Linked DNA regions of Homo sapiens. The protein of the gene in region 1 interacts with the protein of each later gene in a pairwise test. Each region holds a gene or a part of one and is shown in the gene's direction. Other genes may lie near its edges.

Region 1 (11,019 bases):
AATCTGACTCACCAGCTGGTGGGCACACGCATGCACCACACACTCGAGCTGTCCCAGGGAGGCCCATAGCCTCTCCAGCCTCCCCAGCCCCCCGCCCGCTCTGGTTCCTCCGTAACACACCTGCCACGCATGGCCAGGGTGCCAGGCTCTTTCCCACTCACCACCTCTCCTTGTCATCAGATCCAAGGAAGGATGGGAAGGGCAGCACCTCCACTTGTCACATGAGGTCACCGAGGCTCAGAAAGTAAGGTGTGAGGCTAAGACTCCAAGCCAGGTCTGTGACTCCTTGGCTGTTTGATGCCACTGGTTCCTTGCCTCTGAGCTGAGCAGTCTTCAACTCCTGCCTCTGCCCCACTCCCCATAACCAGGGTCCTGTTCATCTACCCCTGAAGTCCTCCCCTTCATCCACTGCTCCCCACACCAACTAACACAGGTCAGGCCACCAGCACGTCAAAATCACCTGCTAAGCAGTCTCACCTCACCGTGCCACCCACTGTCCACCCCCAACCCCAGAGTGACCTAAAACAAACCTGGTCACATCCTTCCTGATGACATCACCCACTACCTGCATGAATTCATGGTGCTGCTTAATCTGGCTTCAATGTACCTTTCTGGTCAACTAACGTAACTGTATTCTTTAAAGCACACTGACCTATTTCGTCAAAAAAGAAATGTATTTCCTAGTTCAGTGCCTCTGCCTAGAAGGGCCATCTTTCATCGAACAAACGACTGCTACACCTATAGAAGCCGTTACCAATGTCTCTGCTCAGACAGACCCTTTAAGAAGCAGATTAAATGCCACCTCCTCTGTGAAGTCTTCCAGAATCCCTCAAGCCCAGTTAACTGCAGGCTCTCCTGGAACGCTCTACTCTCGTCATGGCTGCCCTCACACTGTGCTGAAAAGCGTCGTTTGCGAGTGTCTCCCTGGCCAGGGCGTGGGCCTCCAGGACGGGAGTGGGGCTCGCATCGCTGGCTCTTCCTCCTCAGATGCAACCCACTCTGGCCATGAACATGCTGGGTTCTCTCCCACCTCCTGCCCTGAATTCCCCTCAAACAGGATGTTAACTGGAAGCCCCTAGGGAAGGAAGAGGCAGGGGATGAGAGGCTACAATAAAAGCCAAATCTCCTACTATGACCTACCTGAGTGGGCCCCTGCCTATTTCCCCAACCTTATCTACAATCCTCCTATAATAACAAGCAAATGGGTATCATGCGTTCTGACAAAACACTACGTCCTAAAACGTGGCTGGCTGCCACATGCCAATCCCTGCCTCAGACCAATGTGCTTTTTTTTTTTTTTGAGACGGAGTCTTGCTCTGTTGCCCAGGCTGGAGTGCAGTGGCGTAATCTCGGCTCACTGCAAGCTCCGCCTCCCGGGTTCACACCATTCTTCTGCCTCAGCCTCCTGAGTAGCTGGGACTACAGGCGCCCGCCACCACACCCAGCTAATTTTATGTATTTTTAGTAGAGACGGGGTTTCACCATGTTAGCCAGGACGGTCTCGATCTCCTGACCTCGTGATCTGCCTGCCTCGGCCTCCCAAAGTGCTGGGATTACAAGCGTGAGCCACCGTGCCCGGCCCAGACCAATGTTTAAAGGCACCACGGAGAGAGGTGATTCTACGTGACATGGCTTACGAGGGCCTCACCCAGGAAGAGGCCCACAAATGCCTACCTTAGGGCTTTTTCAAACTGTGGGTCTCAAGCCATTAGTGGGTCATGAAATCAATTTATTGGTTTGCAACCAGCATTAAAAGAAGGGGAAAAAAGCAGTCTAAAAAGTGTCAGGATGAATTGGATACAGTGATCTTAAAAATGTTTCGTTAAACTTTGTTTTGTTTAACATGTGGGGCCCTGGTTATGATGTAAAATATAGTTAACTGCAGACAATATTCAAATAAAAGGACGAAAACAGTGTTCTCTCTCTTTCATGCCTCTGCTCTTCAACCAAGCCTGACCTGTTCTTACCTCAGGGTAGCTGCATTTATATTATTCTGCCGGGACAGCTCTAGCCCACTTCTTCACAAGATTGGTTTTTGTTTTTTTTTTTTTTTTGAGATGGAGTCTGGCTCTGTTGCCCAGGCTGGACTGCAGTAGTGCAATCTCAGCTCACTGCAAGCTCCACCTCCCAGGTTCACGCCATTCTTCTGCCTCAGCCTCCCGAGTAACTGGGACTACAGGTGCCCACCAACATCCCCGGCTAACTTTTTGTATTTTTAGTAGAGACAGGGTTTCACTGTGTTAGCCAGGATGGGGTTTCTTTCTTTTGAGACAGTCTTGCTCTGTCACCCAGGCTGGAGCACAGCGGTGCTATCATGGCTCACTGCAGCCTTGACCTTTCAGGCAAGGGATCCTCCTGGTTCTGCCTCCCAAGTAGCTGGGACCACATGTATACACCACTATACATGGCTAATTTTTTTTTAATTGAGATGGGGTCTCACTATGTTGCCCAGGATGGAAGGCTGGTTTCTTCTCTGGTCCCAACTCAAATGTCACTCTGTGAAAGGCCTTTCTTGAGTACTCCATTCAGAGGTTGCCTGCTGCCTGCTTGTGTGGTCTGCAAGCTAAGAAGGGCGTTTTTTTTTTTTTTTGAGACGGAGTCTCGCCCTGTCACCCAGGCTGGAATGCAGTGGCAGCGATCTCGGCTCACTGCAACCTCTGCCTCCAGGGTTCAAATGATTCTCCTGCCTCAGCCTCCCCAGTAGCTGGGATTACAGGTGCACGCCACCACACCCGACTAATTTTTGTATCTTTAGTAGAGACGAGGTTTCACCATGTTGGTCAGGCTGGTCTTGAACTCCCGACCTTGTGATCCGCCCACCTCGGCCTCCCAAAGTGTTGGGATTACAGGCGTGGGCCACTGCACCTGGCCAAGAATGGCTTTTAAGCTTTTAAACGGTTGGAAAAAAAAAAAACTAAAGAAAAATTTTTCATATGGAAAAATATGAAATTCAAATTTCAGTGCCTATAAAGTTTTATAGAAACATAGCCATACTCATGTATTTGCCTATGGGGTACGGCTGCTACTACAATGGCAGAGTTCAGTAGGTGCTTCAAAGATTGTATGTTGCAAAAAGCTTACTTACCATCTGGCCCTTTGCAGAAACAATTCATCAACCCCTGTTCTACTATAATCATTACCGCATAACTGTTTTCATTACCTTCAAGTCCTTCCTATGACCTAAAATTCTAGTCTATTGTCTTCATTTACTTATTCTTCCCAACTAGAATATAAATTACAAGAGGCCAAGGGCTTTGCCTATCTCTGCCTCTGCTGTATCCCCTGTGCCAAGCACAGTGCCTGAAACACAATAGGTGCTCAGTAAGTGCCTGAATGAAAGAACGGTGGAGGTGGAAGGCAAGCAACTAGGCTTAAGGACCACTGGGGGCTGCATCAGCCACCACTGCCTAAAAGGCGGGGGCCCAGGAAGCTTGCTAAGTACCAGGAACCATGCTCTCCACCAATTTTTGAAGACCTTGCTCACCCGAAGAGTCTTCATCCACGTTCTCGTACTGCAGAAGTCGGTCTAGGAGGAAACTGAGGGGAGGGAAGGAGACACGGACAGTGATTTTCCAGCGCAGCAATGTCCTCCTGGGTACCTGTCCCTCCCAGCTGGCCCATCGGATACTTGAAAGAGCCCATGCACTTGTGGCCCTACTCGGGGATGGGGTCCGAATGTAGATTTCCTAGGAAGCACATCGCCCTCCGCCCCTGCAACGTGCCTCACCTCTTGTCCCGGGACACCTTCAGTAATTTCCTTTGCGCTTTCCTCAGCTCCTCCTGGAAGCACTCGTGCTCCTGTATCACGGGCAAGGGGTGCGCTGGGCCAACGGTCCTCCGTGAAGGGCCCCGGAACCAGCGGCCGCTCGCCCCACCCACTTTACACCTGGGTAAACTGAGATCTTGTCCGCGCCAGGCCTCATCCCCCACAGCCTTCCCGCGGCAGCACTCACGTAGATGAGGAACTTGAGCTTCCGCTTCAGATTCCGGTATTTTTTTTTGTAGTCCACTTCGCCGTCCGCCGGCCCGTTCATGACCGGCCCGGGAGTGGCGCCCAGAGTCTGCCCTCCCGCTACCCCAAGCAGTGGCTGCCGTGCCGCTCCCGCCTCCACTTCCGGAGACGCTGCAAGGCTGTGCCGTCAGGACTACAACTCCCGGCGTACCCCGCGCTCAGGGGCGTCACCGCACGGGCCGACCTCCCGGGGGACACTGGGACAGGAGCGCGGCAGCCACTGCGCTGGGGATGGCGTAGCAGCGACGCGGTGACGCCACAAAAATGGCGGACGCTGGAAAGCGCCGTTCCTGACTCTAATGTACTTAGACACTTGAAGCCACAAAAGGATTTATCCCCGAGGTTCCTCATCTGCTCGCGAGGATGCCTTTTCTCTTCTGCCTTGCGAAATAACAGCAGCCTAGCTGTTGCCCGTGACCAGTGAGAAAGGCAGCGTCGCGGGCTGATTAGGTTTCACCCAAAGGGTGCCGGCGCCGAATTGGTTTCTAACGAGAACTTTTAAAATGATCCGTTCCAAAAAAGGGTAGGAGCCGCGAGACCCTCCAACTGCCCAGAGAAAACAAGTCTCGTCTGGCAAAGTTCTCGGCCCACGCGGTCCGCGGCCAAGGGCCAACGGTCCCTCGCCCCACGTTGCCGCAGCACTGCGCGTGCGCGAGCCGCTGTCAAACGCGCTGACGGAGGCCGAGAAGAAAAAAAGGCGGGAGCCGTCAATCCCGGGTTGAGCAAAATGGCGCGGGAGAAGGAGATGCAGGAGTTCACCCGTAGCTTCTTCCGAGGCCGCCCGGACCTCAGGTGCCCAGGGGGTTGGAGATGGGGTTGGAAAGGGCGCGGGTGGGTCGGGACTCCGTCCTGACACCATGTCCCTGCAGCACGCTTACGCATTCCATCGTGCGGCGGAGGTACTTAGCTCACTCGGGCCGCAGCCACCTGGAGCCCGAGGAGAAGCAGGCACTGAAGCGGCTGGTGGAGGAGGAGCTGCTGAAGATGCAGGTGTGCCGGGCCGGAGCCTGGGCCGCGGGAGGCGGAGGCGGGGCTTGCTGCTGAGGAGGAGGGGCCTGACGGGGCGCGGTGAGCGCAGCCTTGGTGCATAGTTTGCCCTCTTGGCGCACACACAGGTGGATGAAGCCGCTTCCAGGGAAGACAAACTGGACCTTACCAAGAAGGGCAAGAGGCCTCCCACCCCTTGTAGCGACCCGGAGAGAAAAAGGTTCCGCTTCAATTCAGAGTCGGGTTAGTGCTTCCTCCCTGCTGTGGGGGCCTTCTGCATCGTTGGTTCACTCAAGAAGCATTCACTGCGCATCTCTTATGTCCCCAGGCGTTAGATGAGGGAGCAAGGCTAGTGAGTCAGGAACCGGGAACAGCAAGTACAGATAGCTGTTTCCTGCTGCCCCTCCAACTGTCAGGGCAGGGCTCGAGGCAACCTATCCGAAGTGAAGGGAGAAGGGACAGGAGGAGCCTGTCTCAACCCTCTCTCCTCTCCATATTCCAGAGTCCGGCTCTGAAGCCTCCAGCCCAGACTACTTTGGACCCCCAGCAAAGAATGGGGTGGCAGCAGAAGTCAGCCCAGCCAAAGAGGAGAATCCAAGGCGAGCCTCAAAGGCAGTTGAGGAGAGCAGTGATGAGGAACGGCAGAGGGACCTGCCCGCACAGAGGGGAGAGGAGAGCAGTGAGGAGGAGGAAAAGGGGTACAAGGGGAAGACTAGGAAGAAACCTGTGGTAAAGAAGCAGGCACCAGGCAAGGCCTCAGTCAGTAGGAAGCAGGCCAGGGAAGAAAGTGAGGAGAGCGAGGCAGAACCCGTTCAGAGGACAGCAAAGAAGGTGGAGGGAAATAAAGGAACTAAAAGCCTGAAGGAAAGTGAACAGGAGAGTGAAGAGGAGATCCTAGCCCAGAAGAAAGAGCAGAGAGAGGAGGAAGTGGAGGAGGAAGAGAAAGAAGAGGATGAGGAAAAGGGGGATTGGAAACCCAGAACCAGGAGCAATGGCCGGAGAAAGTCAGCTAGGGAGGAGAGGAGCTGTAAGCAGAAAAGCCAGGCAAAGAGGCTCTTGGGAGACTCAGACAGCGAGGAAGAGCAGAAAGAGGCAGCCAGCAGTGGGGATGACAGTGGGAGAGATAGAGAACCCCCAGTGCAGAGGAAGAGTGAGGACAGGACCCAGCTTAAGGGTGGGAAGAGGTTGAGTGGAAGCAGCGAGGACGAGGAAGACAGTGGGAAGGGGGAACCCACAGCTAAAGGCTCTAGAAAGATGGCCAGACTGGGCAGCACCAGTGGTGAGGAAAGTGACTTGGAGAGGGAGGTAAGTGACAGCGAGGCAGGGGGAGGCCCCCAGGGGGAGAGGAAGAACCGCTCTTCCAAGAAGAGCTCCAGGAAAGGCAGGACACGAAGCTCCTCTTCCTCCTCAGATGGAAGTCCAGAGGCCAAAGGAGGGAAGGTGAGGGTGAGGAGGGGTGGGAGGCCACTATTAGGGAAGAGGGAGACCCTGCCTCAGGCCCAGCAGGCTTGGCCTTCAGCTGCTCTTTCCTTGCTAGGCTGGCTCAGGTCGCCGTGGAGAGGACCACCCGGCTGTGATGAGGCTGAAGCGCTACATTCGGGCCTGTGGTGCCCATCGAAACTACAAGAAGCTGTTGGGCTCCTGTTGCTCACACAAGGAGCGCCTGAGTATCCTCCGGGCAGAACTGGAAGCGCTAGGCATGAAGGGTGAGGCCCGGCGTGCCCTGGGGGCTGCAGGAGAGGGCCTTCCTGCTGGGGAGGAGAGAATCACCAGCTTCTTCTGCCCCAGGTACCCCTTCCCTAGGGAAGTGTCGGGCCCTGAAGGAGCAGAGGGAGGAGGCAGCTGAGGTGGCCTCCTTGGATGTTGCGAACATCATCAGTGGCTCGGGTAAGGGGTTTCCTCTCACTGCCCAGGAGCAGATAGGTGGGGTTGGACCTTCTCAGACATCTGATCTCTCGTTTCCCCTTTCCCCTAGGCCGGCCACGCAGACGTACAGCCTGGAACCCTTTAGGAGAAGCAGCACCCCCAGGGGAGCTGTACCGACGGACCCTGGACTCAGATGAAGAGCGGCCCCGTCCCGCACCCCCAGACTGGTCACATATGCGTGGCATCATCAGCAGTGATGGCGAGAGTAACTGAGCTCTGCCACCCCCAGGAGGGACCCTTGATACATGTACAAAGCATACATAGCACCCCTTGCCCTGTGTCTGTGGAACAGAAGCAGCTTCCTTCAGAGAAGACTGCAGCTCCCAAGGACACAAGCTGTTGGGATGCTACTTCTCAGCTTCACGCTGTCCCTTTAAGGTGTTTATTTTTTAAGACTCAATAAAGGAGTGTTTTTAATCACCTCATCAAATTTGGTCCCCCATTCTCACCTCCTGTATTTTGGGCCAGGAAACTGAGCAGTAGTCACTGCCTCCACCTCCTCCCCTGGCCTGGTTCCCTTTAATTTCCCCCGGGTTCCTGGAAGAAGTCCCTGCCTCCAGACCCTGTCATCCAACAGCCACCAGACCCTTTTGGAGAAGGGTGTGTGGCTCCTGTGCTGCCCGCCTACCCCGTGGCCCCTCTGCTTTTAGCCTAGTCTGATAACCTAATGCCCACTTGGGAGAGGGATAGAATGACTTGAGGGCAGCCAGTGCTTAAGCCTTCTCCCTTATGCAAACAGCCACTTTGTCCATGGGCTGTTAGCCTCAAAGGGGTGGGGAAAAGCCCATACCTCCTGGGCCAGTCCTAGCCCTCTAGGCCTCTGGCTACAGGCCCAGCCTCTGCAGTCACATGAGGTCTCCACTGAACTCTGGCTGCTGAGGCTTGCGGGAAGATTCGTGAGCATGGAGCTGCCTGGGGTCTGTGTGGGAGGCAAACCTAAGAATCTTTGAAGTCAAAGCAAAGAAAACGAATTAGAGGTCAAGGGGTTGAAGACCACCTTTGAGATCCGAGATCTGGTCACACCTAAAGTCATTAAAATCACTGAAATGTTTAGATACACAGCCCAATAAATTCTCTTTATAAAACACAAGCAGTACTATTCAGTGGCCACTGAGCAGTCCTTCACGCACACCAAAGACAGAAGGGTGAGTCCTGAGATCTGTTAGAATAACCAACAGTTTATTAAAAGCTTGCCTGGGGCTCTGTGCCAGCCCCACAGCTGAGAGGGGCTCCCACGACTGCCCCCCAGGCCTGGGAGCAGCCCCTTCCAAGGTCCTTCCCTTGTTTCCCCGCCCCAGCCCTGATCCCAATTAAAAAAAAAAAAAAAAAGATAAAGGACAAGACGGCACAGGACGTCAGACAGTTACGGGAAGAGACCCAGGCATCCTGACCCCAAGACCCCATCCTGATCCTTCCTGCCAGTAAGGTGGCCTCTCATTCTCCCTGCCTCAGGCCCCAGACCTGCTCTGCCCTGTGGCAGGTCTGAGGGCCTCACTGTGAGGGTAGTATAGTTCTCTGAATATAGTATGTCTAGACCCACCCTTCCCCTCCCCCAGGGGACTAGATGAATATTTGACACGCACATCTCCCTCCTTTCCTAGGTGGCGGAGGGAGACCCCTGGCACCATGGTAGGGAGGCGGGGCTCCCAGGCAGCCTTGAGGCACCTATCGCCAAGCTGGCCCTGGGCCACTGGCCAGCCCCAAGAAGCTCATGAGATGAGGAGGTCTGAGGGGAGCTGGAGCCTACATCTTGTCCCCTACCCTTGCAGGGGCCTCCAGCTCAGTGCCCTCCAGGGTCAGGCTCCACCCACCCCTGCCCTGCCCAGCTCATCTGCTCCTCCCCGCTGCACCTCAGGAATAGAAGTGGGAAGAACCATTGAGGATGTGGGAAGCGACACTGGTGCTGCGGCTCAGGGGCCCGGGCACCGCGGCAGCAGGGGGGCCCACATTCTCACTGCCACTGCCCCCCGAGGCTGCCCGCCGCAGGGGCTGGGGGCTGTTTCTTAGCAGCAGCAGGGCTCCGCCACGGGGTGTCCCACTTTGTGTGGGGGGCCCCAGCCAGTTTGGGGGGCCTGGGGGAGCCAGCAGAGACGGCTGACGCCAGGCTGGAGGGGGCATGCCTGGTGGAGGAGGGCCATGGCTCCAGTGTGCCCCAGAACGGGGAACGGGACGGGAGGGCCAGGCTGGGGCAGGGGGTGGAGCAGGATAGCCCTGGGCAGCAGCTTCAGCCGGGATGCCCCCCAGAGCCATGCTGGAGAAGCCCAGCCTCATGCTTTCCGCATCGAAGGCCTCGATCTCACGGGCCTGCCGCTCAAGCAGACTGCGGATTCGCTCGGAGCGTCCTGTCTGCAGGGCCAGCAGCTCCTCTTCCACCTGGGGCATCCGGAACAGAGGTTAGAGTCGGGGGCAGGAGCCCACCCTCCCTCCCCAGTCCTGGAGGCTGGGCCCCTTACCCGCTGCTCCAGCAGTGCCCGCCGCAGCGCGACCCTCTGCTCCAGCTCCCGCAGCTCCCTCTCGTGCTGGCTCTCTGTGCGGATCTTGATCTTGCTCTGGTAAGCGTTGAGCAGCTCCAGCTCCTGTTGAAGCTGCTGCCGAAGGGCCTGGAACTCTGCCTCCTGGGTCTCATCAAGCCGCAGCTGGGGAAGATGAACAACCAGTTGTAGGGATCTCCTCCCCCACCCCCACTATCCTCCCCTGCCCCAGGTAGGCCTGGGCCCTAAGGTTTCAAGAAGCAGCGGTCTCAACATCTATCAGAATGGAAGATGGTCATACCCTGTGGCACAGCAATTACACTGCAGAATCTATCCCCCAGGTATACTTGCACATGTGCTCGAGGTGTTCACGGAAGCGTTGTGATAGCAAAATACTGGAAACAACCTAAATGTCCACCAATAAGGGATGGGTTAAATAAATTATGGTACAGCCATACCATGGAAAATTCTATGCTGTAAAAAAAATGAGACAGGTGTACTGACAGGGGAAGATGTCCAAGAAATATTAAGTGGAAAAAAGAAGTTACAGAAAGTAAATGTAAAGTATGATTCCATCTGTGTTTAAAATTCATATAATTTTTCAAAATGTGCACTGAAAAAACACAAAATACAGTTAATTATTAACAAGTTACCTGGGAGAGGTGGGACTGGGTGAGAGAACAGCCTTGGGTGGGGCGTTTCCACTCTCCACCCTCTCCGCACATTTTAAGTGGCCCATTCCAGTGTTAGGTGTGATCATTTTTTTAGAACAGCAACTTTCAAAATCCTCCAGAAGTCTGAGTAAATGGGCTTGAGGGCCACACTCACTTTAATCTGCACCCTGTTTACCCATTAAACTAACTCAGGCCCAGGAAAAAAATAATAGCCACTCTTTTCCTTGGTGGTTCTTGGGAATAGGCACATGGCTTTGTCAAGACCTTAAGAAAATACTAAGAGAAAGAATAAAACCACTGAGGAGAATATGAAATAAATCATTGTGGAGAACACGAACAGAGGGAGAGTATGTGAGTTTCCCAAGTAAAAAAGCCCCAGCTCTGTGCATGCCCTGCACCGTCCATTTCTCTAAAGCAAAGTACAGAGCCTGGCCTCTAGCGCACTCCCTCCCTGGACCCCAGGCCTCACCGCCTGTGAGCTGAGCATCTCTGAGATGGACTGGTCATACTGCTCCGCCAAGATCGCCAGCTTGCGGGTCTGCTCTTCCTTGAGCCGCTTAAGGAGGCTCTTGTGCTGAGCTTTGGGCGTGGTCTCCAGCAAGTGTGCTCGCAGAGCCTTGTACTGCCGAGTCTGGATCTTACACGTCTCCTGGAACTGCTTCTTGATCTGCAGCTCCTTAGACTATGCAGTGGACGGATCAAGGGGAGATGGGGGCAGCGGGGAAGAGGAGGAGGAAGAGGAGGAAGAGGAAGAGGAGGAACAACCAGGGGAAATGGGGAGAAGAGAGAGAAGAGGAGAGGAGACAGAAGCAGAGACAGGGAGAGGGAGAGAAACAGAAAACATGTTAGACAGAGGGGGTGGGGGGAGCTGTATACAGACAGACAGACATGGAGAGGTGGGATCGTGTTGAGAGAGATCAGGAAGGTCTCGATGGGCAAGAGATGCAGA
Region 2 (16,733 bases), on another chromosome or scaffold:
GATCCTCCCACCTCAGTCTCCTGAGTAGTTGGGATTCCAGGTGTGCGACATCATGCCCGACTACATTTTTTTTTTTTTTTTTGAGACAGTCTTGCTCTGTCTCCCAGGCTGGAGTGCAGTGGTGCTATCTTGGCTCACTGCAACCTCTGCCTCCTGGGTTTTAAGCAATTCTTCTGCCTCAGCCTCCTGAGTAGCTGGGACTCTACAGGCGCATGCCACCATGCCTGACTAATTTTTGTATTTTTAGTAGAAATGGGGTTTCACTATGTTGGCCAGGCTGGTCTCAAACTCCTGACCTCAGGTAGATCCACCCATCTTGGCCTCCCAAAGCGCTGGGATTACAGGCGTGCGCCACTGCATCCGGCCATTTCCCCCCGCCCCTCCGTAGAGGCAGGTTTTCACCATGTTGCTCAACCTGGTCTTGGATGGGGCTAAGTGGGTTCCCTTTATTGACTAATGTGTCCTAATGTCCTCATTCACACTCTGCTCTCTCCATCAAAAACTCATACCTTCTAGTACTGAGTTTATACTACCCTAATGCCTCGAACTCCTCCTATTTCGCTTGTGCTTGTTCCCTCTAAGCAGCTTATCCTGAATGTAGAAGAAATCTGCTTAGGCTTAAAAGATCTCTCAGTGGCCCCACCATCTCTGTTTCCCCCTGCGTAACCTCCTGGGCTCCTTAGAGTCTGGTCCAGCTTACAAAGATATGCTCCTTTAGTGTGTCCTTACGACTGTGCCACAGATCAGCTGGGGGAAAAGAAGGTGCCTTAGCCTAGTGCGTCAGCTCCCAGATCCCTTATGGGGGCTTGGAAACCCAGCTCAGGCATCTAATCTTCTGCTACGTAGACCCTACCTGCTCCAGCTACCCTACTTCTGTGGTACCAGTGGTTTGTTTTCCTAAGCCACGTGTCTCAAATGTTCTTGTCTTGGTTTTATTTACAGCTGTGATCAATTTCCCTGACAAATTGAGGTGCTTTTATTTTCTCAGCACAGACCAGTGATCTGCTTAGGAGCTCATCAAGTTGATGAACCTTCCATCTGGCAGGAGCTTTGCAGGCAGCTATTGAATAGAGAGCCAGGAAGGGACTGCTGTACATAAAGACACCATTCCTCCTTCCTCAGAGCCCCCTACTTCCAAAGTTTTTACTGAAAGCAAGAAGGAACCACTATACTTGGCAAAAACCAGTGGGACTATCTCTGGTACTGTTGGCACTGACTGTATGGTGGGACTTGTGAGCCTGTTGGTGAGGGAAGGTCCTGTTCTCTTCTGATTTCTTGGCTTAGAGTTCTCTGCAGATTGGGTACAGTCTGCAAGTCCAGGGTCCTTGAAGCCAAAAGGATGTGTTAGGTTTGGTTAGATTTGGAAATGGGTGGGTTCATGGTGGCCCTTGCACTATTCCTCGCTCAAGAGTAGAAAAACTCTGGAATAGCCTTGGCATTCTGGATCCCCTTGGGGTGGCTGTTTAGGCCCCATATTAACTCAGCTCTAGATCTCCTGATCCCCTAGCCAGACTGTGTAGAGGAGAGGAAAAATGACCTGCCACCCTTCCTTCCCATGGGGTGAGGTAGAACCCACCAACCCTTCAGGAAAGTAGGAAGGACCCCTGCCTTCTCTGGCTCATCTTCCCATCTCACTCACCCAGCAGTAGCAGCTTGACAGTCTTGGCTTCCTTATCAGCATCCTCCTGCAGCTTCTTTTCTAGCTCCTTGGACCTCTTGGCCAGTTCTTTGTCCTCAGCACTGGCTCCACTTCCCATATTTGCCGTCTTGTCAGCTTTTTCAGGCCCCTAATCCTCTCTCGTAAGGTTTCCTGTATGTGAGATGGAAGAGAAGGAAAAAAGTTGGGATTGAGTATCCCAACTTGGCTCCCCTAAAAGCTGGTCTGTACGATGGCAGGTGAGAGAGCAGGCTGTAGGGTCTTGTACTCTGCCTACATTGACTGAGACTCCCTACTTCAACTGGAGACCTACTTCTTAGTCTAGGGATTGTAGCCTTTATATCTAGCAATGTGATAGGTCAAGCCAATTAAGAGCTTTGTCAATATGGCAAGGGGTAAAGACTCAAATGTTTCTATAACTAGGGAAATGATCTGCTGGGTTCTGACGGAAGGATAGGATGCACGACTACTTCCATCCTTTAAGGGGTTCATCCCCTGAAAGTCTCTTGCTTCCTTAGATTTATTTGCATCATAGAGCTAGAGATTACTGGCACATATGTAGAAAGCATTCCTTATGTTGAGCCTCCAGATTATAAGGTCTTGATCTCAAGGGCTTCAGGGTATCAAAGCATACTCGTTTACCATAGGCTGGTCCTGGCCAGGAAATTTGTTTTGGGTGGTGCCCTTCCTTGGGAAGATTAGGAATGTTTCAGCTCCCGCAGTGGCTGCTGCTCCAGGAAGCTACTAGCATTGTTCCTTTGCATTGGCCCCTCTCTTTGTACTTCTGTTATTAGCACTTATCACTTCATATTGTACGTCGTTTTACAAATCTTTTCCCTCACTGCATTTCTCCCCCTGGAGCTCAACGGACCAAATCTGACTCATCTTTGAACCTCTCAGAACTTGTAGTTTATTTGTGGATCAAAAGGTTTGGTGAATGAATAAATGCAGGAAAAGGGTGTATGGTGAAGAGAATGGGGTTGCTTCCCTTTGGCCCACTAAAGCCAGCTGAGTCCCAACTTCACTTCATAAATGAACTTTGCTGGTATTCAGTGTGGGGTTTGTGCTGCCTCACACAAAAAACTCTGCTTCTTTGGGAAATTGGACTCCAGACTCTGGCTTCTCAAAGGTTGGGGCAGCTCTCTCTCCTTCTGGCTCTCATCCCAGCTGCCCTTTCCTGGGGGAAAAATGAGGGTGCAGTCTAGCAACTGCCTCACAGACATTTAGGACTCCACAGGTTGTACTCCTCTATGCCAATTATTTCAGTTTACTTAAATGAGTGTTGCTGGCGGAGCCTCCTCAGGTGGAGATGTTTTAGAATTTTGTTGCCCAAAATGTGGATCAAGAGCCAGCAACATCAGATCACCCGGAAGCTCATTAGACATGCAGAATCTCAGGCTTTAATCCAGAACTTCTGATTCAGAATCCGCAGTTTAACAAGATCTCAGGTGACTCTAAAGACATTAAAGATTGGGAAGTACTGCCCTAGGGACCTGTTTTCCGCTAAACTTACCTAATCCTAAGAATCACCTGGGTTGCTGGTGTCTGTGTTTCCTCAAGTCTTAGGTGCCACTGACTAGAAGATTACCCTGCTTTCCGAGATGTTAAAATAGTGTATGTTTTTAAATGGTATGTTAGCATCAAACTCCAGAGCCAGAGAAAATATTTTAAGCTAATACAGGTAGTTATCACATCTGTGAAGTTTGAAAAACCCTGGCCTGAAACAGTTCTCAACTTTTAGTGTACAGTGGCATTTACCTGGAGAGCTTTTTAAAAAATACTGATTTAATTGGTCTGGAGTGCAGTCCAGGCACAAGGATTTAAAAACGTCCCCAGCTGATTCTAGTGTACAGCCAAGGTGGAGAACTACTGAGGTCGAAGGATGTAATTTGCTCTTTCATTTTAGAGCTGGACTTGTGCAGCAGTGGCCAGTTGGGACTGGGAAGGTCAGGAGTAGAATCTAGGTCTCCCCGCCTATCAGGTACCCTGAGCCATAGCTAATTATCTTCCTCCTTCGCACCACCTTTCAGTGACTGTAGGGGCTGATGGAGAAATATGCAGCTGCTGAGGTGCTTTCCATGGTAGCCATGTTTTCCCAATCAAATTGGCAAGTCCTTATTGACTTAAGGAAAAACAGGAGAGTCTCTTTGAAATTGTGACTATCTTGGAATCTTGGTTATAAGGTTTCAGTAATTATACCCCACTGCTAGCCCTGCTCCAGCGTACTCACAATACTGGTAACTCACACTGAGGCCAGAGCCATGCTGAAGGCTACACTGTTCAAGGGGCTGCCTGGAACTATTAATAATTATTATGTTATAGTTATTATAATTAATAACTGCTGAACAATGTAAGTGGCTCATACCAGTTAATTATCACAATAACTGCTATTGTCCCCAATTTACAGACTAGATTAACTGAGACTTGAGAGTTAAGTAACTCATTTAAAGTCAGCTGGGCATAGTGGCGCATGCCTGTAATCCCAGCACTTTGGGAGGCTGAGGTGGGTGGATGACCTGAGGTCAGGAGTTCCTGGCCAACATGGTGAAATCCCGTATCCACTAAAAATACAAAAATTAGGCCGGGCATGGTGGCTCACGCCTGTAATTCCAACACTTTGGGAGGCCAAAATGGGCAGATCATCTGAGGTCAGGAGTTCGAGACAGCCTGGTCAACATGGTGAAACCCTGTCTCTACTTAAAAAAAATACAAAAATTAGCCAGGCATGGTGGCAGGCACCTGTAATCCCAGCTACTTGGGAGGCTGAGGCAGGAGAATCACTTGAACCCGGGAGGCACTGCACTCCAGCCTGGGCAACAGAGCAAGATTCCGTCTCAGAAAAAAAAAAAAAAAAGAAAAGAAAAGAAAAGAAAAAGCCCAGCATGGTGGCATGCACCCAGCTACTTGGGAGATAGAGGCATGAGAATCGCTTGAACCCGGGAGGTGGAGGTTGCAGTGAGCCGAGATTGCGCCACTGCACTCCAACCTGGGTGACAGAGTGAGACTCTGTTTCAAAAACAAAAAAACAAAGTTATATGGCCTAGTAAACAGACAAACCGGTGATCCTTCTTTCTATTACTTCCACATAAGTAGCCAGAGAGAGAAAGCATGGACAAATGCATGAACTCTATAACAGCAGCCCTTGTTAAAGGAACCACTAAGTTGTTTCACACACAGGGAAAGTGGGCTTGTTCCTTTTTCTGCTACTACCTCTGCAAACTTCTGTGCTGCTTCTGCTTTGTTCCCTAACTTACTGGATGGAAGTTCCCCTTTCTCACTGCTAAGCTGAGAGAGGGAACTGCTAGCCCTCGCCTGGCCTGAGAGTACAGATCCATTACTGTGCATACATCATCCTGATGTCTGTGACCTCCTGCCTCTGCCTCTATCGTCAGTTCCTGTGCCTTTCCTGTGGCTGTCCCACTTTATGATCACATTTACGAACAGTTTCCTGATGAAGTAAATAAGGTATGTAGTGCTAGTTCCATTTTGGAGGTGAGTGAACTGAAGTACAGAAAAGTGATCCTCACATTAATAAGCAAGTTGGTATCAGAAGCCAAGCCAGAGCTCAGGTGTTTTGATTCACAGCCCTTTATAACCATTATCATTTTGAATGAAAAGTAAATCACTGTTTCTTAGTGATTTGGGCATGTTTCCTGAGTTAAGGGATCTGTCTGACATCCGTGGTAAGCCTTGTCTTAAGTGAATTGTGGGTAAAGACTTGTCCCAGATGGAGTGGGAGGACATGAAGGATGAGGAACTACCTTCAGGACCTTCCAGTCCATAGGCAGAGGTGGGGGAAATTCACAGAAAAACAAATGAGTTAAAGGGATACTGCAGTAGTGCTGGGAAATTCAGAGCTGTTTAAGACCTAGCATTCACCCCTGGTAGGAAAGGCAATCAAACACACATCTGACTGTCAGACTGACAAAGTTCTACAGCGGAAGAAAGAAAAGGGTGATTGTGAAATGAATAGACTTTCCACAGAGAAGCAGAATAACAGTGGAAGTGGGAGATACGCATTTTGGGGAAAGGAAAGAGCATGAAAAAAGAGGTAGAGGCACAAAGTACAAGGTGTGCTCAGAGAAGACTGGGACTTTGATGTGACTGGACTGGAGTGAAAGGTGCATGGAGTGGAGGGTTGGGAGGTGAAGATGAAGACAAGAAAGGGAAATTGGAGCCAGCCAGTGAAGCGCCTTCAATGGCAAGGGGTTTGACTAAAATCCACTGGGGTCTTATAAACAAGTATAGATGGAAACAGCTGTATGGTGCTATAAACACAATGCTGGGTGACTGAGGTGAGGGGGAGAGGGAGCTGGCTGCTGGGAGAAGCTGAGAAACCAGAGCTGAACAGCTTGTTTCTAGAAGGGCCTAGGCATAAGGTATGGTTTGGGAAATTGCCTTGGCCAAGGACCTTTTTGGAGCTGCAGATATTCTCTCCCAAGTTTAGTATCTGTGAAGATTGTTCTGGCCTAGCTAGGGAGGCGGACATCACAAGTGAGCTGAAGTCCAGAAGCAAAGAAAAGCACTTCTTCAGAGAAACAGGAGTGCACCATCTTTAGGGAGCTGGGATTCCGGGAGGGCCAGTTAAGGAGCCATGTGGGGAACAGGCTAGGAGGGGAGGAAGCTGTGTTTGGAGCTAGGGAATATCTCAGAGGCTCAAAGGCAATGAATGTTAAGGCCTCAGTGTGAAAAAAGCCCAGGCCATAGGATGACTCACTCCTTTATTTCCCAAGCTCTGTTCTGCGTAGACAATGAAACCTCACTGAGATTCTTGCTGGTATGGAGTGGGTGGAGGGATTGATGCCTAACTATAATCAGGGCCGACTTCCTAGCAGCAACAATACACCAGATGACCTGGAAATAGGGGAGGGTTGTAGAGTGAAGGGTGTGTTGCAGATGGGACTAGGGGACTAGCATAAAGGGACTAATGAACTGGTTTGCCTGGGCTGGGTGGAGGGCAAGGATTGCCACCTATTGGCTGCTGAGGTAGGTAGGTCTGCATTAAGCAGGATGCTCAAGAGACCTGGCCCAATGCAAGATACTATCTTTAAAACTATGTCAACATTTGCATCTTATCAGAAGATACATGACATTTATGTAGTTACATGGTGCTTGATTTTTGAGATTCATTTTATTCATTCTTGAGAGTCCATCAGCCTCAAAATCCCTAAGCGCCCCAAGACCAATTCAGTGGGCCATAAATGTAAACAGAATAGTTTAAGTCTGGGGTTAAGACCCCGGGAAGGCTGGGTTGGGGGGACTGTGGAGGCAATTACAGATTTTTACAGATTTTTGTTGATTTCTATCCCCTTGATTATAAAAGTTATGGGTATGTATTATAATTTCTAAAATGCAAATAAATATAAAGAAAATAAATATAACCCATAATTCCATCACTACAGATAATCATTGGTAAACTTGTTGGTGTGTTTCTTTTCTACCCATGTATATCACATAAGTAGGACCATACTGTGTATAGTGTTTTGCATCCATTCTTTTACCTAACTTTATATTGTAAACATTTCCACATCATTAAACATTTCTCCAAGAACAATTTTTAATGGCTGTATTTCATGGTATGAATATTACATAAACATTCCCCTATTGTTCGACCTTTAAAGTATCTAACTTTTCTATGCAATACACATTGTGGTGCTGAACAACTTTTTGCATACATATTTTTCTGGCAGCTCTTTTTAGAAAAACAACTTCCAGAAAGTTGATTACTGGGTCAAATAATAAGAACCTTTTTGAAAATTTTGATTCTATATTACCAGATGGCTTTCAGAAAGATTATATCAGTGTTCAAGGCCACCAGTAATGTGTTTGTGCACATGTACGTGTGTGTGTGTCTCCCATCTCACTAACTATACCCTTGCCAACCTGCATTAGCGTTTATTTTTTGGTTTTTTGTTTTTTAGTCTTTGCTATTTTGATTAGGTAAACCTGGTTATCTCTGTTCTCTTTTTAGTTTTATGGATTCTGTGTGAGGTGAAGAGGCCAAGTTTTTTTTAAGTTTGTTCAGGGAACAGTAGCCAGGGATCAATGGAAGTGGCACCAGATGCAGGTGGAGAAAAGGGTTCAGGGTCCAGAATCCAGCGTGGGGAGAGAAGAGGGAGGCAGAGTTTGGGAAGGATCTCTGCTGTGGGAGTGGTAAGAACTGGGAGGAGCCAGACAAACAGCATTAGAACAACTGGGTGTGGGGGGCAAAGGCCTCCCACAAGAGGGAAAATAGGGAAGAGATTAATTCCTGCTAATGCATTTAATTATATTCAGTGAAGTCTTAGGGACTTCCCTCCACAAGTTCCCTTTAGGTCGGATTATCTACCCCTTGGCAGTGGGGATGCTTGTTGGATAGACCCCAGAACGGCTGCAAGTGAATCAACCTGTGAGTGTCAATAGAGAACCAAGGCCAAGGCTAAAGCAATGGTAATACATGAATACTGAGTACTAACTACAGGCCAGGCACAGTTCTAAGCAGTTAACTTATATTAACTCATTTATCTTAACCACCATATAAAGCAGGTACTCTTACACTCATTTTACAGACGAAATAGAAGCACAGAGAAGTTAGGTAACTTGCCCAGTATCAGTCAGGAAGTAGGTGAAATCTGGATTTGAACCCAGACATTCTGGCTAGAGTTAAAGCTCTTAACCACCAAATACAGAAATGTGGGAAGGGGAGCCAGAATTGCAGGGCACAGCCTCCTACCTACGCCGGCCGGAAGAAAACAGACGACCAAGTGAGATTGCAGGGGCAGGACTTCTGCTTAAAATGAATCCTGGGACAATGATAACAGCTACCTTTCACTGGGCCCTCACTTCGTGCCAGGCACTGTGTAAAGGGACTTTACGTTTAATCTTCACAGTAACCCCTTTGAGTGAGGTACTGTCATTACCCCATCTTACTGATGAGGAAGCTGACGCACGGAACTGGCCCAAGACCCAGGGTCGGCTCAGGCCAGCCCTACCGCGGTGTGGTGGCTGCCCACGTGGCGCCCAGGAAGAGAAAAAAATGGCGAGGCGGGGTCGGCAGGCGGAGGCGGGGCCAGGCGGGGGCGGGGCCAAGGGCCGCAGAGCCTGGCGCGGAGCCGGCGAGATTTTGGTGGGGTCTCACCTGTTGCGTGACTCCCCCACAGTCCGGCCGCGGGAGTCCGACCCTGAATGCCCAGGGAGTGTTGAGAGAAATCTGGACGAGTTTCGGGTCCCGCTCCCTTGGGAGCACGTGGCCTACCAGCCTCTCGATTGCAGGGTTGGGTGGTCGCGACACCGGGGTCGCCTTGAGGCCAGTCCGGCTGCCGAGGTCTGCGGGAGTCCACCTCCGGCCAGCTGGCAATTTTGAAAGACTGCCTTACTTTCCCCATCTCAGTGCCAGGGCAGGGGCCCTTGGAGTGACTTGGCTGGGGTCTGTGGCCCGATCCCCCTGCCGTCCCTCAGGACCCGGGCTTTCTGCTGTACAGACTTCTCGTGGGCAGCCTCCCCTCGGAACTCGGGCATCATGGCCTCAGGTGAGTGTGTGTACGTGTGTTGGAGGGAGGGTCTCTGGGACAGAGAAGTGCTGTGGCCAGAGTGACAAGAGGGTGGGAGTCACAGCACAGCAGCAGGACCTAGGGAAGGCGGTCAGCTCCTCCCAGGAGGGCCTGGGGAGCAGAGCCAGAGTGTGCAGAGACAGAGGAAAAATCCAAAGAGGCTAGGGTCTCTGTCCCAGACCCCCAGACAAGGGGGTCTCCTGGCCTTCCTGCCTTCCTGGGAGGTAGCTATTTGGCGACGGTGGAATTTTCCCGGGACAGGCCCCTCCCTCCTGGGCTGGGATTCTCGGTTCTTCCCCCTCCTCCCAGAGCTGGGCTACCCCGGGAGCTGAGGGTCAGATGTGGAAGGAAAGTGGGTGCTGGGTTTTCACGGAGTATGCCTGCCCTGCCCCGGGAGGACTGTGTTTGAGCTTGGACTCGCTCGCTGCTGAATTCCTGTTTGTTATTCTTTTTTCTTCCAGGCTAGCTGGAAGGACCAGCTAGCCTGGACTTTGGCTTCTTTGCCCGGGAGCCCTGGCATGATGGGGTGAGGGCTCTTGGTGGGTTAGTGGAGAGCTGGGGGCTGGCCCTTCCCCATCTTCTTTTCTACCCACCCCCTCCCCGCCCCCCGCCAGGCCCAGCCACCATCAGTCACGTCACTCCTGGGACTGAGGAGGCAGGGGAGGGATAAGGGGCAGAGATGGAGGCCCCACTCCCCGAGGTTGCCTAGACAACATGAGAAATCGTGGCCAGGGCCTCTTCCGCCTGCGGAGCCGCTGCTTCCTGCATCAGTCACTCCCGCTGGGGGCGGGGCGGAGGAAGGGGTTGGATGTGGCAGAGCCAGGCCCCAGCCGGTGCCGCTCAGACTCCCCCGCTGTCGCCGCCGTGGTCCCAGCCATGGCATCCTATCCATCTGGCTCTGGCAAGCCCAAGGCCAAATATCCCTTTAAGAAGCGGGCCAGCCTGCAGGCCTCCACTGCAGCTCCAGGTGAGTGTGTGCTTCCTGGCCTCAGGATAGATGCTGGGCTCTGTCTTGCCACCTCTCGCCCAAGGTGCTGGTCCCCTCAGAGGGGGCCACCTCCTCCGGCATCCTCTCTGTGGTGGTGCCCCTCAACCTCAGTCCCAGGGACAGCCGGCTTGGAAGGTGGGGTGAGGGGTGGTGGGGGGCGGGGGGTGGATCTGAGATATCTGTGCCAGGGATGCTGTCCTCTGTCACAAGGAGTGGGCATGGTGTGGGTGCAGCAAGAGGTGTGTATGCACACGTGTCAGCGTGTGCATGTGCTAAGACTGCGTGTGAAGCATGTGTGAATGGAGCGGGGGTGTGTGGGACTGACTGTTTTGTGGACTGGCCACTCTGACTGGCGCCTGTGCCTTTACCAGGCAGGCTTAGGCTGTTCTGTGGCTAGTTCCACTTTTTAGGACCCCACATCTAGATCCCCCTCACTGGGGGTCTGACATCTGGGCACAACCATTGCTGGCTGGCATCCCACAACTGGGGGCTTGACTGTATCTATCGTTTGCTATTTGCTCATTCCTGGTCTATATTGTGAGCCTCCTTAGGAGTATGGGGTGTCCTTGGTCAGGTCCGTGCAGGGTTCAGGCTGGGGCTGCTGCCCGCACTGTGTGTGCTTCTGCACCCTTTGGTTCGTCTCTCACTCTAGTAAGCATCTCTGCATCATTTGGAGCAGGCAGTGAGGTGCGGCAGTGCCTGTCTCAGTGAGGGCTTGGCTGCCTGGCTCTGTGCTTGCAGAGGGATATCTGCCTGCTGTCTGCTCCCAGGCCTTGTGGCTAAGGAAAGACCCACCCTGACTTTGATGACCAGATCATGCCGACTGCCCCCACCCTTGCAGCTGTCTGTAGCTATAGCCCAAGTATCAACCTCCTATATTTTTTTGTTTCATTGAAGATGACTGGTGCAAGGTCTCTACTGTCCTGAGGGTGTTCTCTGTGCCCAGGTCTGTGCCATCCAGAAAGGGTGTCCCCTGGGTGGGGCCCTTCCTGGCCCTGTTTGGTTCAGCAATAGGGCAACTGATACGGATCTAGCCCAGAGCTGGAGACCCTTCGGTGGTCAGATGGTAAGAGCATCTGATACTTGTGGGGTCAAAGCCGTGGACACCCCTGTGCCTACTGAGGCAGTCGTGGCAGTGTGTGAGGGGCTCCTGGTCGAGAGGGGAGATGGGGTGCTCAGAATCTCAGAGTTGGTGGGAGTGGCTCTGGAGCAGCCCACTCTGGCTTTTGCTTGACTTCTCCGTAAGTGTGGGTGTATGTGTGTGGTGCTGACCCCTAGAGAAAGGACCAGTAGGCAGCTGAGTCTTCTAGGCCTGGCCTCTGAGAACGTAGCGGTTACTGCCCGTGTGCCACCTTCAGTGAGCCTGCGGCAGCCCTGGAGAGTGGTCTGGCAGGCTGGGGGGATGGCACTGGCTGTTGGAATCTGTCCTGCTCACCCCAGGATTGCTGTGGAGCCTGAGACCCCCCTGCTAGGAGAGGGGGTTGAGATTTGAGCCTTTGACTCAACTCCTGCTGACCCAATATGAACCAGCCATGGAGGTCTGTGGTCGGCCTCCCCTAGAAGGAGTCAGAAGTGGTCTGGGGCCATATGTAGGGAGGAGGTGTGTAAAATCAGGGTTCTCGGGCAAGAAAAGATCTTACACTCTGGGGGTGAGACAGCTTCCCCTCTTTTCTTCCTCTTCCCACTTTGTCCTTTTCCAAGTAAGAGATAGAGTCACCCCATCTCCACTCCTGCCAAGTTCACTTCACTGCCCTTTACTGGCCTATTGCCTTTGCCCTGCACTGGGCCCAGGGAACCTCCCACTGTCCTCAGTGGGCGGGGCTACAGGTAGAATGTATTTTGAGGGTCCCAGGAGTTCATAATTGCAGGCCTTGCCTCAACACAGAGCCTGGTGTTTTGCAGAACACTTGCAGAGCCATTATCTCTGTGAGCCTTATGGCAGTTGTGGCTAGGCAGGGAAGGGACCACTTATCGCCCCACTTGTAGATGAGGACCCAAAGCCTCCCAGAGGTAGGTAGAGACATGCCCGGAAGCAGGAACAGAATCAGATCCATGTTCTCCAAATTCTAGCCCCCTTTCTCCCAAACTTATTCTGGACAGTTTGTCCTGTCCCTGATGATAGGCTTGGATCAGGGGTTGCAGGTCTAGGGGCCTGCGAACCAGCCCCCTGAGCAGCTGGGCAGCGGGGAAGCCTCAGTGACTGGCCCCTACCTAGACTGGGCCATTTCCCCAGCTGCCAGCCAGCTCCTACCCCAGCAAAGGCCCTGTCTCTCCTGAGGGATGCCATAATCAGGGCCCAGAGGACAGTGGTGAGCAACAAGGCCACTGCCAGAAGAGGCCAACCTGGGGCTGTGGGTGTGATGAAGAGCGCTGTTCCCCTCCTTTTTCTCCCCTCTTACTCTTTGGCCAGCCAGGCCCTGCCCACTCACTGTCCCCTAGGGCAGTGGATTTTAAGGAGGCTTGGCTCCTCCCTGTCGGCCTGCCCTGCCCAAGTCAGCCTACCCTGCTACTCCCCCTTAGGAGCCTCACATCTGGCTGGGTCTTCCCTGGCACTGTAGAGGTGGAGGCCCTCTTCAGTTCTGGAGTTCGTCTTATCTCCCAACTCTGATGCTCCTTCCCTTGGTTTCTGGGCTCCCTTGAACTCCCCTAGCTCCGTGCTCACGGCCATCTCAGGGTCTCCCCTGCTTGCAGCTGCACTTGGTACAGCCTGTGCCAGCCCCTGAGGGACCGGCTGCAGCTTCACTGGCAAACAGGCGGGCAAGGGGCACAGGGCTGCTGGCCGGAGCTGCCTGCACTCTGCAGGTAGGGTTCAGGCAGGGGCCGGGGTGCGCAGGGGACGGGGTCCTGGATCTGGGGCAGGCCCCTCCCTCTTCCCTTTGTCCAGCTTTGGGACCAGTCCTGGAGTATTGGGAAATGGGCGCAGAGACTTTAAGGCCGGCTACCTAGGCAGATCCTGTAATCCTTCCCTAAGCCAGGGTGGAGGGTGCTGGAGGGGAGCACTCCTTACAGCCGGCTGAGAGAGGCAGTTTGGGTGTGGAAAGCTTCTCACTGAGGAGCTGGGGCTGCTGAGCCCAGGGAGGGTCCTTCGGGGTAGGCTGGAAGCCTTGGCAGCCCCCATAGACCAGCAGCTTCACGGCCCTCTGGTGCCAGCCTCCTCGTGGTACAGATGGAAAGTCTAGTCTTGATGAAGAAAGACCCCTGGCTTCTGACACTCCCTTCCCCAGGGCCCTCTGTGGTGCCCCCGGTCCAGATCCTGGGGCCTGAGTGGCATAGACTGTTTGTGGCAGCTCCTTTTGGAGGGGCAGGCTAAGGCCAGGCCACATTTTGGCAGCCCTGGGGCCCTGGGGGACAGGGCGGGCCTCCAGGGAGGAGGTAGGGTTCCCTTGCCAACCAGGCCCTCCACTTCCTCTCCTCTTCCCTTGAGGGCTCGTCCCTAGGTCAGAGCTGAGCAGCAGCTGCGGCTTCTCTTGTGCTGCACAGGTCTAGGATGTCAGGCACAGGGCCCTGCCCCTTTGAGTGGAGAATCTGCTAGTCCAGGGGCGGGTCTGATCCTGGGTTGCCTGCCCTGGGAGCTGCAGGCTGGGGGTCCCTGGTGTGGCCGCCTGGTCCTTACCAAGCACCTGGTGTGTGTCTCTGAGGGTGTCTGTGTGCGTACGTGCATGTGTGTGCACACGTACACACGTGCACCTGCCTCTGGGAGGTAGTCACGTGGAGATTCTCATGGCCTGAGGGATCAGGCTCTAGTCTCATTTGTGGAGGTAATGAATCTACTTGTTCTAGGGGCAGACTCAGAATCCCCACCCCAAGCCTGGAATGGGTGAGGGGTCCCTGCGTTAGAGGTGAGGGTGAGCCCTTTGGGAGCCACACACACAGGCCTACTCCTCAGCTACTGAGGAGGGACTGCCCTCTTTCCCGACCCTGGGCTCTCTCGGGAGCTGGCCTAGGCAGGGCAGGGGCCCAGGGCTTTCAGGGGCTGCCCCTCCACCCTTTGACCCTGGCATCACTGTCTCTGCAGAGGCTCGGGGTGGTCTGGGGGCCCCTCCGCTGCAGTCTGCCCGATCCCTGCCGGGCCCCGCCCCCTGCCTCAAGCACTTCCCGCTCGACCTGCGCACGTCTATGGATGGCAAATGCAAGGAGATCGCCGAGGTATCACCTGGCACCACCCGCACCCTCACCCCGTGTCTCCATGCCCTGCCTCTGCTCCCCACACCCCTCACCTCAAGCTGTCCCCTCACCTCACGCTTGGCTGTCTCCTGATCCTCAGCCTCTCCCAGGTACCCCTGGTCCTGCTGCCCTCACCCCATCCCCAGACTCTGTAGGAGAGTGCCCGAGGGCGGAGGGCCAGCCATGCTGACCTTCCTTCCCTCCCCCCAGGAGCTGTTCACCCGCTCACTGGCTGAGAGCGAGCTCCGTAGTGCCCCGTATGAGTTCCCCGAGGAGAGCCCCATTGAACAGCTGGAGGAGCGGCGGCAGCGGCTGGAGCGGCAGATCAGCCAGGATGTCAAGTGAGCCCGGCAGGCAGCTGCTTAGTCTCCCTCCATACCCTTCCAGACCCTTTCAGAGCCCCTTTTCTGCCTCTTTCCCTCGCACCCTGCCTTGGGGGGTCTGCACAGGGAGCATAGAGTGGGCTTTGGAGTCGGGCTGCTGGGTTCTGTTCTGTCTTCTAGCCGCCGGTGTGGCTGGGTCATGTTGCTTAACTTATGGGTCTGCTTTCTCATCTCTAAAGTGAGTGAGAACAGCACAGGGTTCTGCAGCTCTGCCTTTGAGGATCACATGTGACAACATGTGCACAGCACCTAGTGCGGTGCTGGGACCTGGGAGCAAGGGCCGTCCCTCGGGATCTGCCTGACTTCTCACCCCTCTTGCCTCTAGGCTGGAGCCAGACATCCTGCTTCGGGCCAAGCAAGATTTCCTGAAGACGGACAGTGACTCGGACCTACAGTGAGGAGGGCAGAGGGGCACAGGGGATGCGGAGCTGCAGCCTGCCCTTCTGCCGGCTCTAAACCCCTCCCTTGAATGCACCCCCTGCAGGCTCTACAAGGAACAGGGTGAGGGGCAGGGTGACCGGAGCCTGCGGGAGCGTGATGTGCTGGAACGGGAGTTTCAGCGGGTCACCATCTCTGGGGAGGAGAAGTGTGGGGTAAGTATGGGGTGTATGTTGGGTGAGTCGCCATCACCTATGTCTTAGTGGGTTCCCCCAGCCTGGAGAGCTGGGGGTGGGGGCTGGAAAGGGCGTTTCTCTTTCCAGCAGCTGGAGGGGCGGAGGGGCAGAGGGGCTGCCTAGGAGCCACTTGATGTGCTGGACCAGGGTGATCTGAGTGTTCCTGGGGGTCAGGGCCTGTGGGAGGTGGGGATAGTTTGGGTTCTAAGATAAGGCCTTAGGGAGGAGGTCTCTGAGTCCAAGACTGAGGAGAGTGATCGCATATCCTCATCTCCAGGTGCCGTTCACAGACCTGCTGGATGCAGCCAAGAGTGTGGTGCGGGCGCTCTTCATCCGGGAGAAGTACATGGCCCTGTCCCTGCAGAGCTTCTGCCCCACCACCCGCCGCTACCTGCAGCAGCTGGCTGAAAAGCCTCTGGAGACCCGGACCTATGAACAGGGCCCCGACACCCCTGTGTCTGCTGGTGGGACTCCCCATCTCTGCCCCATGCCATGTGCCCTAGCCTCCTGGGCTTCTCAGCCTGGTGCCTGGGCACCTCTGCCCTGCCTGCCTCTCCCTACAACCCAGGCTCATTCCAACCTCTTGGGGTACAGGGGTGGAGGTTGGGCAGGAGCTGTCTGACCTACTGGGTCTTCAACATCTCTTGCCCTCTGTGGGGCCTTTGGGTTGGGCAGTGGGTGGCTTGGAAGAGCCCTGCTCTGACTTTACCCTCCTCACCCCTGCAGATGCCCCGGTGCACCCCCCTGCGCTGGAGCAGCACCCGTATGAGCACTGTGAGCCAAGCACCATGCCTGGGGACCTGGGCTTGGGTCTGCGCATGGTGCGGGGTGTGGTGCACGTCTACACCCGCAGGGAACCCGACGAGCAGTAAGAGGGGTGTGGTGCATGTTGGGGGGATGCAGCGTGGGAGGTTGCGTTGGCTTGGGAGAGGCCACAGGGCTCGGCTTGCTCTCCTCACCCAAGCTCCCCTCCATGCCAGTTGCTCAGAGGTGGAGCTGCCATACCCTGACCTGCAGGAATTTGTGGCTGACGTCAATGTGCTGATGGCCCTGATTATCAATGGCCCCATGTGAGTCCCCTGCCATCCCAGACACTTAGCTCCCCTCCCAGCCCAGATTCTCCAGCCCCAGTTCTGCCCCAGACTCCCATCACCTGGTGTCTTGCCCTTCCTAGTTGCTGAGCCCTCGACTTCCCCGCAGTCTACTTCCCTCTTGGCAGCCTCCATCCTTACCCTCCCACCTGCTCCCTCTGATCTGCTACCCAAGCCCTCCCCAGGTGCCTCCCTTCAGGGCCTAAGTCCCTGCCTTGTTCTCCTCATGCCCAGAAAGTCATTCTGCTACCGCCGGCTGCAGTACCTGAGCTCCAAGTTCCAGATGCATGTGCTACTCAATGAGATG

The links.
Region 2: the proteins of HIRIP3 (region 1) and AMPD2 interact in binary tests that used the Homo sapiens proteins (3 or more experiments, as listed by UniProt).

What each region holds. Positions count from the first base shown.
Region 1 is NC_000016.10:29,989,326-30,000,344, reverse strand, and holds HIRIP3 (HIRA-interacting protein 3), read left to right. Parts: upstream 1-4,727; 5' UTR 4,728-4,739; coding exon 4,740-4,804; intron 4,805-4,881; coding exon 4,882-5,002; intron 5,003-5,127; coding exon 5,128-5,242; intron 5,243-5,501; coding exon 5,502-6,439; intron 6,440-6,536; coding exon 6,537-6,705; intron 6,706-6,787; coding exon 6,788-6,886; intron 6,887-6,974; coding exon 6,975-7,138; 3' UTR 7,139-8,015; downstream 8,016-11,019. Other genes in the region: INO80E (INO80 complex subunit E), read right to left, coding at 3,485-3,537, 3,728-3,798, 3,954-4,034. UniProt on the Homo sapiens protein: Histone chaperone that carries a H2A-H2B histone complex and facilitates its deposition onto chromatin.
Region 2 is NC_000001.11:109,611,114-109,627,846, forward strand, and holds the start of AMPD2 (AMP deaminase 2), read left to right. Parts: upstream 1-8,723; 5' UTR 8,724-9,155; coding exon of another isoform or gene 9,156-9,165; intron 9,166-9,800; 5' UTR 9,801-9,994; coding exon of another isoform or gene 9,995-10,062; coding exon 10,063-10,153; intron 10,154-12,915; exon of another isoform or gene 12,916-12,976; intron 12,977-14,189; coding exon 14,190-14,320; intron 14,321-14,548; coding exon 14,549-14,679; intron 14,680-15,046; coding exon 15,047-15,115; intron 15,116-15,205; coding exon 15,206-15,314; intron 15,315-15,612; coding exon 15,613-15,799; intron 15,800-16,061; coding exon 16,062-16,203; intron 16,204-16,315; coding exon 16,316-16,405; intron 16,406-16,660; coding exon 16,661-16,733. Other genes in the region: GNAT2 (guanine nucleotide-binding protein G(t) subunit alpha-2), read right to left, coding at 1,640-1,757. UniProt on the Homo sapiens protein: AMP deaminase plays a critical role in energy metabolism. Catalyzes the deamination of AMP to IMP and plays an important role in the purine nucleotide cycle.